Regions from separate parts of the Homo sapiens genome. Here region 2 is linked to region 1. A link means that fine-mapping ties the variant in region 1 to the expression of a gene that starts in the linked region. Tissue or cell type: whole blood. Region 1 holds a variant in brackets; the other region holds the start of a gene. All regions are shown on one strand. Distances are from middle to middle.

What was found. PIP is the estimated chance that this variant, and not a neighbour inherited with it, causes the effect.
Region 2: it holds the start of MAPK3, and the variant in region 1 is fine-mapped to the expression of MAPK3 in whole blood (INTERVAL, PIP 0.93).

The regions. Positions count from the first base shown.
Region 1 is chr16:30,147,123-30,155,221 of GRCh38, reverse strand. No RefSeq gene overlaps it. Among named protein-coding and RNA genes, the nearest start is that of MAPK3, 28 kb to the right of the region's middle. The variant G/A (reference allele first, on the strand shown) is at 3,377.
Region 2 is chr16:30,118,692-30,126,790 of GRCh38, reverse strand. It overlaps MAPK3 (mitogen-activated protein kinase 3), which reads left to right and starts at 3,571. Exons shown (of 9, transcript NM_002746.3): 1 at 3,571-3,751; 2 at 4,785-4,967. The coding sequence starts at 3,582. RefSeq lists a silencer at 3,210-3,579.

The DNA.
Region 1 (8,099 bases):
TCAGCCTCCCAAATAGCTGAGACCACATGCATGCACCACCATGCCCAGCTGATTTTGTTTATTTTTGTCGAGACGGGGGTTTCACGGTGTTGCCCAGGATGGTCTCGTACTCCTGGGCTCAAGAGATCCTTCCATCTCAGCCTCCCAAAGTGCTGGGATTACAGGTGTGAGCCACTGTGCCTGGCCAGTTTTATTTTCTTATTGTGATAAAACATATAACATGAGATGTACCCTCCTAGCAAGTTTTTGTTGTTGATTTTTGTTTGTTTGTTTGCTTTTGATGGAGTCTTACTCTGTCGCCCAGGCTAGGGGGCAGTGGCACGATCTTGGCTCACTGTGGCCTCTGCCTCCCGGGTTCCGGCAATTCTCCTGCCTCAGCCTCCATGCCACGCAACCATCCCCAGCTAATTTTTATTTATTTATTTTTTAGTAGAGACGGGGTTTTGCCATGTTGGCCAGGATGGTCTCGATCTCCTGACCTCGTGATCCGCCCGCCTCGGCCTCCTAACGTGCTGGGATTACAGGCATGAGCTACCACACCTGGACCCGAGCAAGTTTTAAGTGTACAGTACTTTAAACTACGATCACAACGTAGTGCAGCAGATTCTAAAATTTTTCATTTTGCATGACTGAAACTCGATACCCAATAAACAGCAACTCCTCCTCTCCCCCTCCCCTCAGCTGCTGAACATCACCTTTCTAATTTTTGTTTTGGTGAGTTTGACTACTTTAGATACCTCGTATGAGTGGAATCATGCAGTTTTTGTCCTTCTATAACTGGTTTATTTCACTTAGTATAATGTCTTTGTCTTAAGCCATTCTTGCTTTGCTATAAAGAAATGCCGGAGACTGGGTAATTTACGGTGAAAAGAGGTTTAATTGGCTCATGGTTCTGCAGGCTGTACAGGAAGCATGGTGCTGGCATCTGCTTGGCTTCTGGGGAGGCCCCAGGAAACTTAAAATCATGGCAGAAGGCGAATGGGGAGCAGGCATGTCATGGCGAAAACAGGAGCAAGACAGCGAGAGGGTGAGGAGGGGTGCCACTAACTTTTAAAGAGTCAGATCTCGTGTGAACTCAGAGTAAGGGCTCACTTATTGCTAAGGAGATGGCGCAAGCCATTTATGAGGGATCTGCCCCCGTGATCCAAACACTTCCCCACAGGCCCCACCTCCAACATTGGGGATTGCATTTCTACAAGAGATTTGGGCAGAGACACACATCGAAACTGTATCAGTCTTCAGGGTTCATCTGTGTTGTAGCATATGACAAGATTTCCTCCTTTTTACAGCTGAATAATATTCCATTGTATGTCTGTGCCACATTTTCTTTCTTTCTTTCTTTCTTTTTTTTTGAGATGGAATCTTGCTCCATCACCCAGGCTGGAGCGCAGTGGCGCAATCTCAGCTCACTGCAAGCTCCACCTCCCGGGTTCACGCCATTCTCCTGCCTCAGCCTCCTGAGTAGCTGGGACTACAGGCGCCCGCCACCACACCTGGCTAATTTTTTGTATTTTTAGTAGAGATGGGGTTTCACCGTGTTAGCCAGGATGGTCTCAATCTCCTGACCTCGTGATCCGCCCACCTTGGCCTCACATTTTCTTTATCCATTCATCTGTTAGTGGACATTTAGGTTGTGTACACCTCTTGATTATTGTAAATAATACTGAAATGAACATGGGAATGCAGATATCTCTTTGAGATTCTGATTTCAATTCTTTTGGATAAATACCCAGAAGTGGCCAGGCGCAGTGGCTCACACCTGTAATTCCAGCACTTTGGGAGGCCGAGGTGGGTGGATCACTTGAGGTCAGGAGTTCAAGACCAGCCTGGCTGACATGGTGAAACCCTGTCTCTACTGAAAACACAAAAATTAGGCCGGGCACGTGGCTCATGCCTGTAATCCCAGCACTTTGGGAGGCTGAGGTGTGTGGATCACTTGAGGTCAGGAGTTCAAGACCAGCCTGGCTGACATGGTGAAACCCTGTCTCTACTGAAAACACAAAAATTAGGCCGGGCACATGGCTCATGCCTGTAATCCCAGCACTTTGGGAGGCTGAGGTGGGTGGATGACCTGAGGTCAGGAGTTTGAGACCAGCTTGGCCAACATGGTGAAACCCCGTCTCTACTAAAAATATAAAAATTAGTCTGCATGGTGGCAGATGCCTGTAATCCCAGCTACTCAGGAGGCTGAGGCAGGAGAATCACTTGAACCCGGAAGATGGAGGTTGTAATGAGCCAAGATCACACCACTGCACTCCAGCCTGGGCGACAGAGTGAGACTCTGTCTCAAAAAACATACACAGACACACACACACACACACACACACACACAAATTAGCTGGACGTGATAGCACACCCCTGTAGTCCCAGCTGCTTGAGAGACCAAGGCACAAGAATCGCATGAACCCAGGAGGCGGAGGTTCCTGTGAGCCAAGATCGCACCATTGTACTCCATTCTGGGTGACAAGAGCGAAGCTCCGTCTCAAAAATAAATAAATAAATAAATAAATAAATAAATAAATAAATACCCAAAAGTGGGACTGCTGGATCATATGGTAGTTCTATTTTTAATATTTTGAGGAACTTTCACACAGTTTTCCACATTAGCTGTACCATTTTACATTCCCACCAACAGTGCACGGGGTTTCCAATTCGCTCTCATTCTTGCCACACGTATTTTCTGGTTTTGGTGTTTTTTGTTTTTGTTTTCTATAGTGGCCATCGTAACAGGTATGAGGCAGCACCTCATTGTGATTTGGTGATATATATATATATACATCTAGATTTTGTCCACAGTTCCTGGTTCACAGCTCCCATAGCTCTTGCTAGAATGCTGGAGTGCTGCAATCCTCTGAAGCAGGCCTCATTGAAAAAAGAATCTCTTGGCTGGGTGTGGTGGCTCATGCCTGTAATCCCAGCTCTTTGGGAGGCCAAGGTGGGTGAATCACGAGGTCGGGAGTTCAAGACCAGCCTGGCCAACATGGTGAAACCCCGTCTTTACTACAAATACAAAAATTAGCCAGGTGTGGTGGCGGGCGCCTGTAGTCCCAGTTAGGAGGCTGAAGCAGGAGAATCGCTTGAACCTGGGAGGCGGAGGTTAGTGTGAGCGGAGATCACTGCACTCTAGCCTGAGCAACAGAGCAAGAATCCGTCTCAAAAAAAAAAAAAAAAACTCTCTCTCTCTGTTTGACCTTCTCCTGCTCTCCTTTCACCTGCTTCTTTTTCTCACCAAGGCAGGAATCTTCCCCTACCTTTCTGTATTGAAATTGGCCATAAAGAAACTCTCTGACATACCTTGTCTGAGTGTAGTTGATGACACCTTCATTTCGGTAGGACTCCTGCCCATACCCTGGAGGAAGGAAAGCTGCACAGAGAG[G/A]CCAAGGAGTTGCTGAACACAAGGGCCTTGCTGGGGTTCCCCATTCAGGGTATTAGTATTAGATCGTGCCCTTTTTGACCAATCACCTTTCTACACATTTGTCCATGCTTGAGTCATGCCTATCCAATTAAGTCTCCATAAAAGGCCAAAAGGACAGGGCTTAGGGAGCTTCCGGATAGCTGACCATGTGGAGGTCATACAGGAGTTAAGAAGAAATTACTTAGGCAGATAGTAAGGGTACAGAAGTCTTTGGTAAGGTTCTCCTTTTAATGAAAAGCAGCCCCAAATTATTTTCCTTTCTAACGAAGAGTAGCCTGTAAAATCGAGCTGCAGACATAGATGTTGGCAGTTGTGCCAATCATGTTCAAGATGGTGGCTCCATCTTCCCTTCTCTTTGTCAGCCACGTGTACAGTAAAGAGCAGACAAGATGGCGAAGGCCAAGGGGAAAGTTCATTTGCATAATATGATTAGGGTGAGGCAGCCAGCCTTCCCTGCATGCTATGTAATATCACTCTTGATCAAACCAATCTGTGAGTCCTATGTAAATCAGGCACCACATCCTCAAATCTGACTATAAAATATGGCACATCCCCCACCTGCTGGTCTTTTCCTCTCAGAAGTCCCCACTCTCACTAAAGAGAGAGCTGTGCCAGACATGGTGGCTCATGCCTGTAACCCCAGCACTTTGGAAGGCCGAGGCGGACGGATCACGAGGTCAGGAGATCGAAACCATCTCTGGCTAACACAGTGAAACCCCATCTCTACTAAAAATACAAAAAATTAGCTGGGCGTTGTGGCATGCACCTGTAGTCCCAGCTACTCAGGAGGCTGAGGCAGGAGAACGGCATGAACCTGGGAGGCGGAGCTTGCAGTGAGCTGAGATCTCTGCCACTGCACTCCAGCATGGGTGGCAGAGGAGACTCTGTCTCAAAAAAAAAAAAAAAAAAAAAAAAAAAAGAGGGAATCATGGAAACCCCAATTTGAAGCCAGTCGGTCAGAAGTTCTGGTGTGTGTAGGGGTGCAGTCTTGTGGGATTGAACCCTCAACTTGTGGGATCTGATGCTATCTTCAGGTAGATAGTGTTGGAATTGAATTGGAGGACACTCAATTCAGAATTGTCCATTGGAGAATTGGTTGTTTGCTTGGTGTTGGCAGGAGTTCCCCCCAACATTTGGTCACAGAAGACTTCTTTTTTTTTTCTTTTTTCTTTTCCTTTTCTTTTCTTTTTTTTTTGAGACCAAGTCTCACTCTGTTGCCCAGGCTGGAGTTCAGTGGTGTGATCTCTGCTCACTGCAACCTCTGCTTCCCTGGTTCAAGCATTTCTCCTGCCTCAGCCTCCCCAGTAGCTGGGATTACAGGTGCCTGCCACCACACCTGGCTATTCTTTTTGTGTTTTTAGTAGAGATAGGTTTTCACCACGTTGGTCAGGCTGTTCTTGAACTCCTGACCTCGTGATCCACCCACCTTGGCCTCCCAAAGTGCTGGGATTACAGATGTGAGCCACCGCACCCAGCCCGGTCACAGAAGACTTCTGTAGTGATTGTTACTGTGGTGTGAGAGCCAAGAAAAAAAACAGTTTGTGTTTTTTCTTCAGAGGTTTTGATTTGCATTTCCCTGGCGATTAAAGTTCTGATTTTTTAGTGGGTTCCTTAGGATTTACAGGATCTTATATATTTTCTTTTTTTGTTTTTGTTTTGTTTTGTTTGAGACAGAGTCTGACTCTGTCACCCAGGCTGGAGTGCAGTGGCACGATCTCAGCTCACTGCAAACTCTGCCTACCAGCTTCAAGGGATTCTCCTGCCTCAGACTCTGAGTAGCTGGGATTACAGGTGTGCACCACCATGCCCAGCTAATTTTTTGTATTTTTAGTAGAGACGGAGTTTCACCATGTTTGCCAGGCTGGTCTCAAACTGCTGATCTCAAATGATCTGCCCACTTTGGCCTCCCAAATGCTGGCATTACAGGCATAAGCCACCACGCCCGGCCTTGGATCTTGTATATTTTCTATATACAAGATCATGTAATCTATAGATAGTTTCACTTCTTTCTTTCCAATCTAGATGCCTTTTATTTCACTTTCTTGCTTAATTTTCCTGGCTAGAATCTCCAGTACAATACAGAATAAAAGTGGTAAGAGCGGACTTCCTTGTCTTATTTTGATCTGTCAGGAACTTTCACCATTAAGTATGATGTCAGCTGTGGGTTTTTCACAGATGCTCTTTATCAGGTAGAGGAAGTTGTCTTTTACTTGTAGTTTGTTGCATGGTTTTTTTCTTACGAAAGAATGTTGAATTTTGTCAAAGTTTTTTTCTGCATTTATTGAGATGATTAATTGCTTTTTTCCATTTATTCTAAAATTATGGTGTATTAAGTTAATGTATTTTCAGATATTGAACCAGCCTTGCATTCCTGGGATCATTCGCACTTGATCATGGTGTACTGTCCTTTTGATGTGGTGCTGGATTCTGTCTGCTGGTATTTGAAGATTTTTGCCTCTATATTAATAAGAAATACTGATCTGTAGTTTCCTTTCTTATGTCTGGCTTTGGCATCAGGGTAATACTGGCCTCATAAAAAGAGTTGGGAAATGTTGCCTCTTCTTCTATTTTTTGAAAGAGTTTATGAAAAACTGGTATTAATTTTTCTCTAAATGTTTAGTTAAATACAGCAGTGAAGCCCTGTGGGCATGAGCCTTTGTGGAAGTTTTTGTTTTTGTTTTTGTTTTTTCTCTCGAGAGGGAGTCTCGCTCTGTTGCCCAGGCTGGAGTGCAGTGGCACGATCTCATCTCACTGCAAGCTCCACCTCCTGGGTTCACACCATTCTCCTGCCTCAGCTTCCCATGTAGCTGGGACTACAGGCACCCACCACAATGCCTGGCTAATTTTTTTTTAGTAGAGACGGGGTTTTACGGTGTTAGCCAGGATAGTCTTGATCTCTTGACCTCGTGGTCTGCCCACCTCGGCCTCCCAAAGTGCTGGGATTACAGGCATGAGCCACCACGCCAACCTGTGGGAAGTTTTTTATTACTACTTCAATCTATTTACTTGTTATATGTCTATTCAGAATTTCCATTTCTTCCTGAAATTTGGTAGGTTTTTCTTGTTTTTCTAGGACTTTGTCCATTTTTCTAAGTTGTTTAATTAATTGGCATACAACTATTTATTGTATTCCTTTATAATACTTTTTATTTCTTTAAGGCTCATAGTAATGTCCCCAAGGTGTCTAATAAGAGGTCAGCTCTAGTTAAGTGGAGGCTGAAATAAATCATTTGAACCTCAAATAACTTTGGGGGAGGTCAGGTACTACATATATATATATATATATTTTTTTTTTTTTTGAGATGGGGTCTCACTCTGTTGCCCAGGCTGGAATGCAGTAGTGTGATCTTGGCTCACTGCAATCTCTGCCTCCCAGGGTCAAGTGATCCTCCCACCTCAGCTTCCCAAGTAGCTGGGAGCTGAGAGCACAGGCATGCACCACCACACCCGGCTAATTTTTTGTATTTGTTGTAGAGACCGGGTTTTGCCATGTTGCTCAAGCTGGTGTTGAATGCCTGAGCTCAAGTGATCCACCTAGCTTGGCCTCCCAAAGTGTTAGGATTACAGGCGTGAGCCACTGTGACCAGCCTAGTACTACATTTTAAATCTTTCATTTTTGCTGACATGAAAAGCTATTTATCTGTAAAAGTGGAACCTATCAATTAATCAGATTAAGCAAAAACTTTACATGTGGTCTGTCCAGAATAGGCAAATCCATGGAGACAATAATTAGATTAGTGGTTGCCAGGGACTTGGGGAGTAGGGAGGGGACAGGGAGTGGCTGCCAATTAGTATAGAGTTTCTTCCTGGGGTGAAAATATTTTGGAATTACATAGTGGTGACAGATGAACTTTGTGAATCAACTAAAAACCAAACCCACCAAACTGTACACTTTGAAAGGGTAAACTTAATGGTGTATGTTTTATATTCCAATAAAGCTGTTATTTTTTAAAAAGGTTATATGGGCCAGGCGCAGTGGCTCACACCAGTAATCCTAGCACTTTGAGAGGCTGAGGCGGGCGGATCACTTGAGGTCAGGAGTTCGAGACCAGCCTGACCAACATGGTGAAACCTCGTCTGTACTAAAAATACAAAAATTAGCCAGGTGTGATGGCGGATGCCTGTAATCCCAGCTGCTCGGGAGCCTGAGGCAGGAGACTCACTTGAACCCAGGAGGTGGGGGCTACATTGAGCTGAGATTGCGCCACTGCACTCCAGCTTGGGCAACAGAGCAAGATTCTGTCTTCAAAAAGAAAAAGAAAAAAAAAAAAAAGGTGGCTGGGTGTGGTGGTTCATGCCTGTAATCCCAGCATTTTGGGAAGCCAAGGCGGGTGGATCCCAAGATCAGGAGATCGAGTCCAGCCTCACCAACATGATGAAACCGCGTCTCTACTAAAAATACAAAAAAAATTAGCTGGGTGTGGTGGCACGTGCCTGTAGTCCCAGCTACTCAAGAGGCTGAGGCAGAAGAATTGCTTGAACCTGGGAGGCAGAGGTTGCAGTGAGCCAAGATTGCGCCACTGCACTCCAGCCTGGTGACAGAGCAAGACTCCATCTCAAAAAAAAAAAAAAAAAAAGTTATATGTGAACTCTGTTCCTAATTTTAAGTTATGCTGTATGTTCCTACCTTTCAATGATGGAATATGAAAGGAGAACAAAAAAGGAAAAGAAAAGAGATAAGGGC
Region 2 (8,099 bases), 28 kb after region 1:
TTTGAGCCTGAGAGGCAGAGGTTGCAGTGAGCCATGACCGCACCACTGCAGTCCAGCCTGGGCGACACAGCATGACACTGCCTCAAAAAAAAAAAAAAAGAAAGAAAGAAAGAAAAAAAGAAGTGCCAGACCTTGAAAATCACAAAAAGCTAATAACTGGTTTAAGATTTAATCTGGAGCCAGCCGAAGTGGCTCATGACTGTAATCCTAGCACTCCGAAAGGCCGAGGTGAGAGGATCACTTGAGCCTAGAAATTTGAGACCAGACTGGGCAACATTAGCTAGAACCCTTCTCTACAAACATTCTAAAAATTAGCCAAGCCAGGCACGGTGGCTCACACCTGTAATCCCAGCACTTTGGGAGGCCAAAGTGGGCAGATCACTTGAGGTCAGGAGTTTGAAACCTGCGTGGCCAACATGGTGAAACCCCATCTTTACTAAATATATAAAAATTAGCCAGGCGTGGTGACGTGTGCCGGTAATCCCAGCTACTTGTAAGGCTGAGGCAGGAGAATCGCTTGACCTGGGAAGTAGAGGTCAAGGTGAGCCGAGATTGTGCCATTGCATTCCAGCCTGGGCACAGAGGGAGACTCCATCTCAAAAAAAAAAAAAAAAATGCTGGGCGCAGTGGCTCACACCTGTAATCTCAGCACTTTGGGAGGCCGACACGGGCGGATCACGAGGTCGGGAGATAGAGACCATCCTGGCTAACACGGTGAAACCCCCTCTCTAATAAAAATACAAAAAATTAGCCAGGCATGGTGGCACACGCATGTAGTTCCACCTACTCAGGAGGCTGAGGCAGGAGACCCGGGAGGCAGAGGTTGCAGTGAACTGAGATTGCACCATTGCACTCCAGCCTGGGCAACAGAGCAAGACTCCGTTTCAAAAACAAAAAAAAAAAATTAGCTAGGCGTGGTTGTGTGTGCTAGGCATGGTGGCAGGATCTGTTGAGCCTAAGAGTTCGAGCCTGCAGTGACCTATGATCTTGCCACTACACTCCACTCCAGCCTGGGCAACAGAGCAAGACCCTGTGCTAGAAAAATAATTCTGCCGGGCACAGTGGCTCACGCCTGTACTCCTAGCACTTTGGGAGGCCGAGGCAGGTGGATCATGAGGTCAGGAGATGGAGACCATCCTGGCTAACACGGTGAAACCCCGTCTCTACTAAAAATACAAAAAATTAGCCAGGCATGGTGGCGGGTGTCTGCAGTCCCAGCTACTCAGGAGGCTGAGGCAGGAGAATGGCGTGAACCTGGGAGGCGGAGCTTGCAGTGAGCTGAGATCGCGCCACTGCACTCCAGCCTGGGTGACAGAGCGTAAGCTTCCACATCGTTTTCCCTCTGTCCCTTTTTTTGGGGGGGTGGGGGTGGGGGCAGGGTCTCTCACTCTGTCACCCAGGCTGGAGTGCAGTGGCACCATCAGAGCTCACTGCAACCTCAACATCCTGGGCTCAACTGATCCTCCTGCCTCAGCCTCCCAAGTAGCTGGGATTACGGACGCATGCCACCACACCCAGCTCATTTTTGTATTTTTGGTAGAGATGGGATCTCACTATGTTGCCCAGGCTGGTCTCCAGCTGCTGGGGTCAAGCAATCAGCCTGCCTCAGCCTCCCAAAGTGCTGGAATCACAGAGGTGAGCCACCACGACCAGCCAGCATCATTTTCCAGTTAAATGTTAATAGTATCTACTTCATATGGCTGCTGTGAGGATTACAGGAGGTAGTGTACATAAAAGTGCCTGGCAAGCCAGGTGCCGTAATCTCAGCACTCTGGGAGGCCAATGTGGGTGGATCACCTGAGGTCAAGAGTTTGAGACCAGCCTGGCCAACATGGTGAAACCTCGTCTCTACTAAAAATACAAAAATTAGCCGGGCGTGGTGGCTGGCGCCTGTAATCCTAGCTACTTGGGAGGCTGAGGTGGGAGAATGACTTGAACCCAGGAGGTAGGGGTTGCAGTGAGCTTGCACTCCTGCCTGGGTGATAGAGCAAGACTCCGTCTCAAAAAAACAAACAAACAAACAAACAAAAAAAAACCAAAAGTGCCTGGCACAGAAGAGATGGTAAGTCTACATTAGTTGAATATGCGTCTATGAACCAGAACAAATCCCAGTCCAGTCCTCCAAGGAAATGCCAACCTCAGTCACTAGAGGGGAATCTCAGTCACACTCTAACTGAGCTTCCAGCAGCAGGAGGTGGCAGCTTGCAGCTCTGATACACCAGCCTTTCCTATGCTGGGAAACTCACTCCCACTCAGCAAACCTGGCTCCATGCTGAACTCCATAGTGTTTTCTCTGAGTCACTATATTCTCCCGCAGTTGCAAAATGATCTGGCAAAAGTCCCTCTAGGGTTTTTACTGCTTACTGAGTAACATCCAAACTCCTTGCCAGAATCCAGAGCCTTCCTAATCTGGCCCCAACCTACCTCTCCAGGCTGAAACCTCATCATTTTTTTACTGCAGCCATGCTGGACAAGTTATGCTTCTGCCTTTATGCCTCAGCTCACCCCGATCCTTCTCCTTCATGCCTTTCTTCAGTCCCTACCTTCTGCAACCCTACTTTTTCTCTTCTTCTTTTTGTTTTTTGTTTTTGAGACGGAGTGTTGCTCTGTCGCCCAGGCTGGAGTGAAGTGGTGCAATCTCAGCTCACTGCAACCTCCTCCTCTCGGGTTCAAGCGATTCTCCTGCCTCAGTCTCCCAAGTAGCTTGGATTACAGGCACGTGCCACCATGCCCAGCTAATTTTTGTATTTTTAGTAGAGACGGGGTTTCACCATGTTGGTCAGGCTGGTCTCAAACTCAGGTGATCTGCCCACCTCGGCCTCCCAAAGTGCTGGGATTACAGGCGTGAGCCACCGTGCCCAGCCCCCCAATTTTTTTTTTTAATTAGCAGGGCGTGGTGGCGCGCACTCGTAGTCCCAGCTCTTTGGGAGGCTGAGGTGGGAGGATCACTTGACCCCAGGGAGGTTGAGGCTGCAGTGAGCAATTATTGCACCACTACACTCCAGCCTGGACGACAGAGAGAGACCCTGTCTCTATAATAAAATAAAAACAGTCTAGGACTCTGAGAGGCATGGAATTAGAAAGAGTCTCTGTGTCAGAAGACACCATTTTGAGTCTCAGCTGTCACTACTAGTGACCTTACCCAAGTTAGTAAACCTAACTCTCAGATTCTCCATCTGTAAAATTTGATCCATTTATTAGAACATTATTTTTAACCTAGGGTGATCCCGGGCCCAGGTTCTGGTGGGCTGCCGCATACATTGGCTGGGTGGCTCTGGTAGGTCACGCCCTGGCCGCTTCGCCATCGAGGGGAGGGTGAGGACAGTCTCCGAGGCGGCGCTGCCGAACCTCCCGGTGACCTGGAGGCCGCGGAGCCCGCAGGGACCCATGGCCCCCGAACCTGGGGCAAGAAGGGCGGGCGCGCGCGGGGCGGGTCACGTGACAGCTCCAGGCCCACGCGGGGCCGGGGCAAGGGCGGGGCCTGGCGCGCGCGGCCCTGCGGGTGACAGGCAGGCGGGAAGGGGCGGGGCCTCGGGCGGGGCCGCCGTGGGGAGGAGGGCGGTGGGAGGGGAGGAGTGGAGATGGCGGCGGCGGCGGCTCAGGGGGGCGGGGGCGGGGAGCCCCGTAGAACCGAGGGGGTCGGCCCGGGGGTCCCGGGGGAGGTGGAGATGGTGAAGGGGCAGCCGTTCGACGTGGGCCCGCGCTACACGCAGTTGCAGTACATCGGCGAGGGCGCGTACGGCATGGTCAGGTGAGGGGGCGTTCCGGGGGAGGGGGTGCCCTCAGGGGAGGGGGCTTCGCGGGAGAGGAGGAGGAGGCGCCGAGCGCTTTCCGGGACGTGGAGACGCGGAGCGTCCCGAGGAGGCAGGAGACTCGGGATGATCGGGAGCGTCCCAGGGAGGGGGCCCCTGAGTGCTTTCTGGGGGAGGGGGCGCTGCCTACGTCCTCAGGGGAGCAGGCTTGGAGGCTTTGAGTCCACCCTTCTGTAATGATGGGAGGGGCATCCGAGTGCATGTGGGGGCCCGCGGGGACCCTAGTGACACGGGGCGAGGCCCAGAGGATGAGTACTCTCGGGGAGGCGACATCCTTAGTGAAGAGGCAGTGGAGGGCCCGTTTTGGGGGAAAGGGTGTCTTGGATTCCCCCTGTGAGGCAGTGCCAGGGAGCCTGGGGGAGAAGAGCCGAGATCAGGGTGGGGCAGGGCTTTGGCCCCACCACCCCAGGGGCCCAGAGAGAGATGAGGCGGCCAGGAGTGCCACCTGCATGTTTTGGGAGGGGTCTGTGAGTGCCCCCGGCCCCACCGTGTGCTCTGGGCCTCTATCCCTCTGGGACAGCCCCGCTGCCCGGATCCCTCACCCTGGGACCCTCCCCTGCCCTGTCCATTCTCTCCTGCCCCTCCCCTGGCTGCCACCTTCCCAGTATTTGCCCCATGGTGTGTCCCCAGCATCTGCACCCCCGGACCTGTCTTGGGTTAAGGAGCCTTTCCTGGGAATGGGGGCGAAGGGTTCAGGGCCAGTAGAATGGAAGGGGATTGAGGAGAGGGGAAGTCAGTGAGCGGTCAGTCTCTTCCTCTGTTTGTAAAGTCACCGAAGGGCCGCCTGGCTGGTCCCCAGCTTTCTCTCTGGAGATCCCAGGCCTCCACAGCAGGAAGGAACCAGCATTGTTTATGATTTGACCAGAGCCAGCTCCTGCTCTCTCCCCTCCCTGCCAAGGCCTGGGTGGGGCCACCAGGCCCGGACTCCCCCTTTGTAAGGCCACAGCAGCAGCCTCTCTCCGGTCCCCTCAGCTCGGCCTATGACCACGTGCGCAAGACTCGCGTGGCCATCAAGAAGATCAGCCCCTTCGAACATCAGACCTACTGCCAGCGCACGCTCCGGGAGATCCAGATCCTGCTGCGCTTCCGCCATGAGAATGTCATCGGCATCCGAGACATTCTGCGGGCGTCCACCCTGGAAGCCATGAGAGATGTGTATCCTTCACCTTGGCCAGTCGGCTGGTCAGGCACGGCCTCGCAGCTGGGCTGGGGACCCGTTGCTTGGTTTCTGTTTCCATCTTACCCACCACCCTCCAAAACAAACCCAGTAAAATAAACTTTCCTGCAGAGGGGAAGCCACAGTGTAACAGGACTTGGAGACCTCTGATGAACCCAGGCCTGCAGCGGCCCAGGCAGTATGGCCTCGAGCAAGTGGGTTCTCTGCTCTGTGCCCCAGGGGGAAGGGCTAGGCAGGATGGTCTCTATGGGAGTGGTGTCTTCTGACGTCGGCAGTTCTGAGACATGACCTGGCCTCTGCCCACAGTCACTTCTTGCTAAGGAATGGATGATTCTTTCCTCTCTTTCCTCCTTGCCCAGACCGGAAGGGAGACAGGGAGAAAGAAAACTGTCAGCTGGGCGTGGTGGCTCACGCCTGTAATCCCAGCACTTTGGGAGGCTGAGGTGGGAGATTACCTGAGGTCAGTAGTTGGAGACCAGCCTGGCCAACATGGTTAAACCCCATCTCTACTAAAAATACAAAAAAATTAGCGGGGCATGGTGGTGCAAGCCTGTAATCCCAGCTACTTGGGAGGCAGAGGTAGGAGAATCGCTTGAACCCAGGAGCTGGAGGTTGCAGTGAGCCAAGATCGTGCCACTGCACTCCAGCCTGGGTGACAGAGCGAGACTCTGTCTCAAAACTAAACAAAAACAAAAAACTGCCTTTCTTGAGGGCCTGCTGTGTGTCAGGTACTATACATGCCCAATGCTTTTTTTTTTCTATTACACCTCCCAACTACCCTATGAGATGGGCTTTTCAGCTTCATTTCAAAGATGAGGGGTGGAGTGCAATGGCTCACATCTGTAGTCCCAACACTTTGGGAGGCTAAGACCAGAGGATCACTGGAGGCCAGGAGTTCAAGACCAGCCTGGGCAGCATAGTGAGACCCCACCTCTACAAAAAATTTAAAAATTATCCAGGTTTGGTGGTACACGACTATAGTCCCAGCTACTTGGGAGGCTGAGGCAGGAGGATGGCTTGAGCTTAGGAGTTCGAGGCTGCAGTGAGCTATGATTGTGCTACTGCACTCTAGCCTGGGGGACAGAGCGTGACCCTGTCAAAAAAAAAAAAAAAAAAAAAGATGAGGAAGCTAAGGCTCAGAAAACCTAAAATCAAGTGTTTCTGTTGCTGTCTCCTCCTCTCCTCCCCCAGATGGGAACTTGTCCTTCTTCTTAGGACTTCTCACTCAGAGCCACACCCTAATCACCTGTGGACTTGCACCTTGCCCAGGGAGGGACAGCCTAGCCTTGGCTGTCCTCCCCCAATACTGCTTTCCTAGTTTGCTGTCCACTTCCTGTCTGGCTCTCCTTAGCAACTTATGACACCTGTCACTTCTTCCCTGCCCCACCCACCCACTCTCAGTCCCAGCCCTCCACCCAAGAGTGGGGATTTGTACTGAGGTGTCTGCAACCCCCACCACAAACTGTGGACAGGAAATCTCCGTGCTCACCCCCAGCTCGCTGTGTGATCTGAAGCAAGTCACTGCGTCTCGCTGGGCCTCCCCAGCCCTAAAACAGCAGGGCTGGTCCACATATTCTCTGAAGACCCTTTCAAGGCTGATTCTTGTTTTCTTTGTTTTTTGTTTGTTTGTTTTTAGATGGAGTCTCCCTCTGTTGCCCAGGCTAGAGTGCAGTGGCTCAATCTCAGCTCACGGCAACCTCCACCTCCCAGGTTCAAGCTATTCTCCTGCCTCAGCCTTCCAAGTAGCTGGGACTACAGGCGCCTGCCACCACGCCCGGCTAATTTTTGTATTTTCAGTAGATGCGGGGTTTCGCCCTGTTCACCAGGCTGGCGTCAAACTCCTGACCTCAGGTCATCAACCCACCTTGGCCTCCTGAAGAGCTGGGATTACAGGCATGAGCCACCATGCCTGGTCTCAAGGCAGATTCTAAAAGACAGCCCTGACTTATTTTTCTAGAGACAAGCCAAACAGCATTTGTGGATTTATTTATTTATTTACGCATAAGCTTTTTTGTATCTTCAAATAGAAAAAGACATTTTACTCCTCCATCTTCTGAGGTATGGCCAAGCACTCTCCTTTGAGTGGGAGTGTGCTGTTGGGAGTGTCTCCTCATTTTTCTTGCACAAACCATTCCCATAAGGCAGGCATTTATTTTTAAGCAAACATTTATTGCATGCCAGATGGTGTTCATACATTATCTCATTTAACTCCCTCAACAGCCATGTGACTCAGGCATTCATATTAGTAATAATAGTTCATGTTTGCCTAGCACTCACAACTTGCCAAGCACTGGGCTGACAGCTTTACATGCGCCATCTCATCTAGTCTTCACAACCACCCTCAAAAGAACCATTATTTCATGGCTTGCACCTGTAATTTCCAGCACTTTGGGAGGCCGAGGTGGAAGGAACACTTGAACCCATGAGTTCAAGACCTGCCTGGGCAACAGAGCAAGAGCCCATCTCCACAAAAAGAAAACAAACAAACAAACAAAAAAACATTATTTCCCCTACATACCAGATGAGAAAGTTGAGGCACAGACAGGTTGAGATCCTAAAGCCAGTGAGTAGTAGAGAGGAGATTTCAGACATCCATGGGTTAACTCCAGAGTTGCTGCTCTTTTTGTAGGTTTTTTTTTTTTTTTAATTTATTTATTTTTGAGACAGAGTCTCACTCTGTCATCCGGGCTGCAGTGCAGTGACACAATCTTGGCTCACTGCAACATCTGCCTCCTGGGTTCAAGTGATTCTCGTGCTGCAGCCTCCTGAGTAGCTGGGATTACAGGCACATGCCGCCGTGCCCAGTTAATTTTGCTATTTTTAGTAGAGACAGGGTTTTGCCATGTTGCCCAGGCTGGTGGTCTCAAACTCCTGGCCTCAAGCAGTCCTCCCGCCTCAGCCTCCCAAAGTGCTGGGATTACAGGTGTGAGCCACCACTCCTGGCCCAAGTTGCTGCTCTTAACTGTGAAGTTCTCCTGCCTCCCACAGTTTATTATTATCCCCGTTTCCCCGGTAGGGAAACTGAGGCCTCAGAAATGAAGCCCCTTGCTCAGGATCAGCAACTGTGATGCAACAGAGGCTCAGAGCCCTGCCGCTGGGTAATGGCAGCA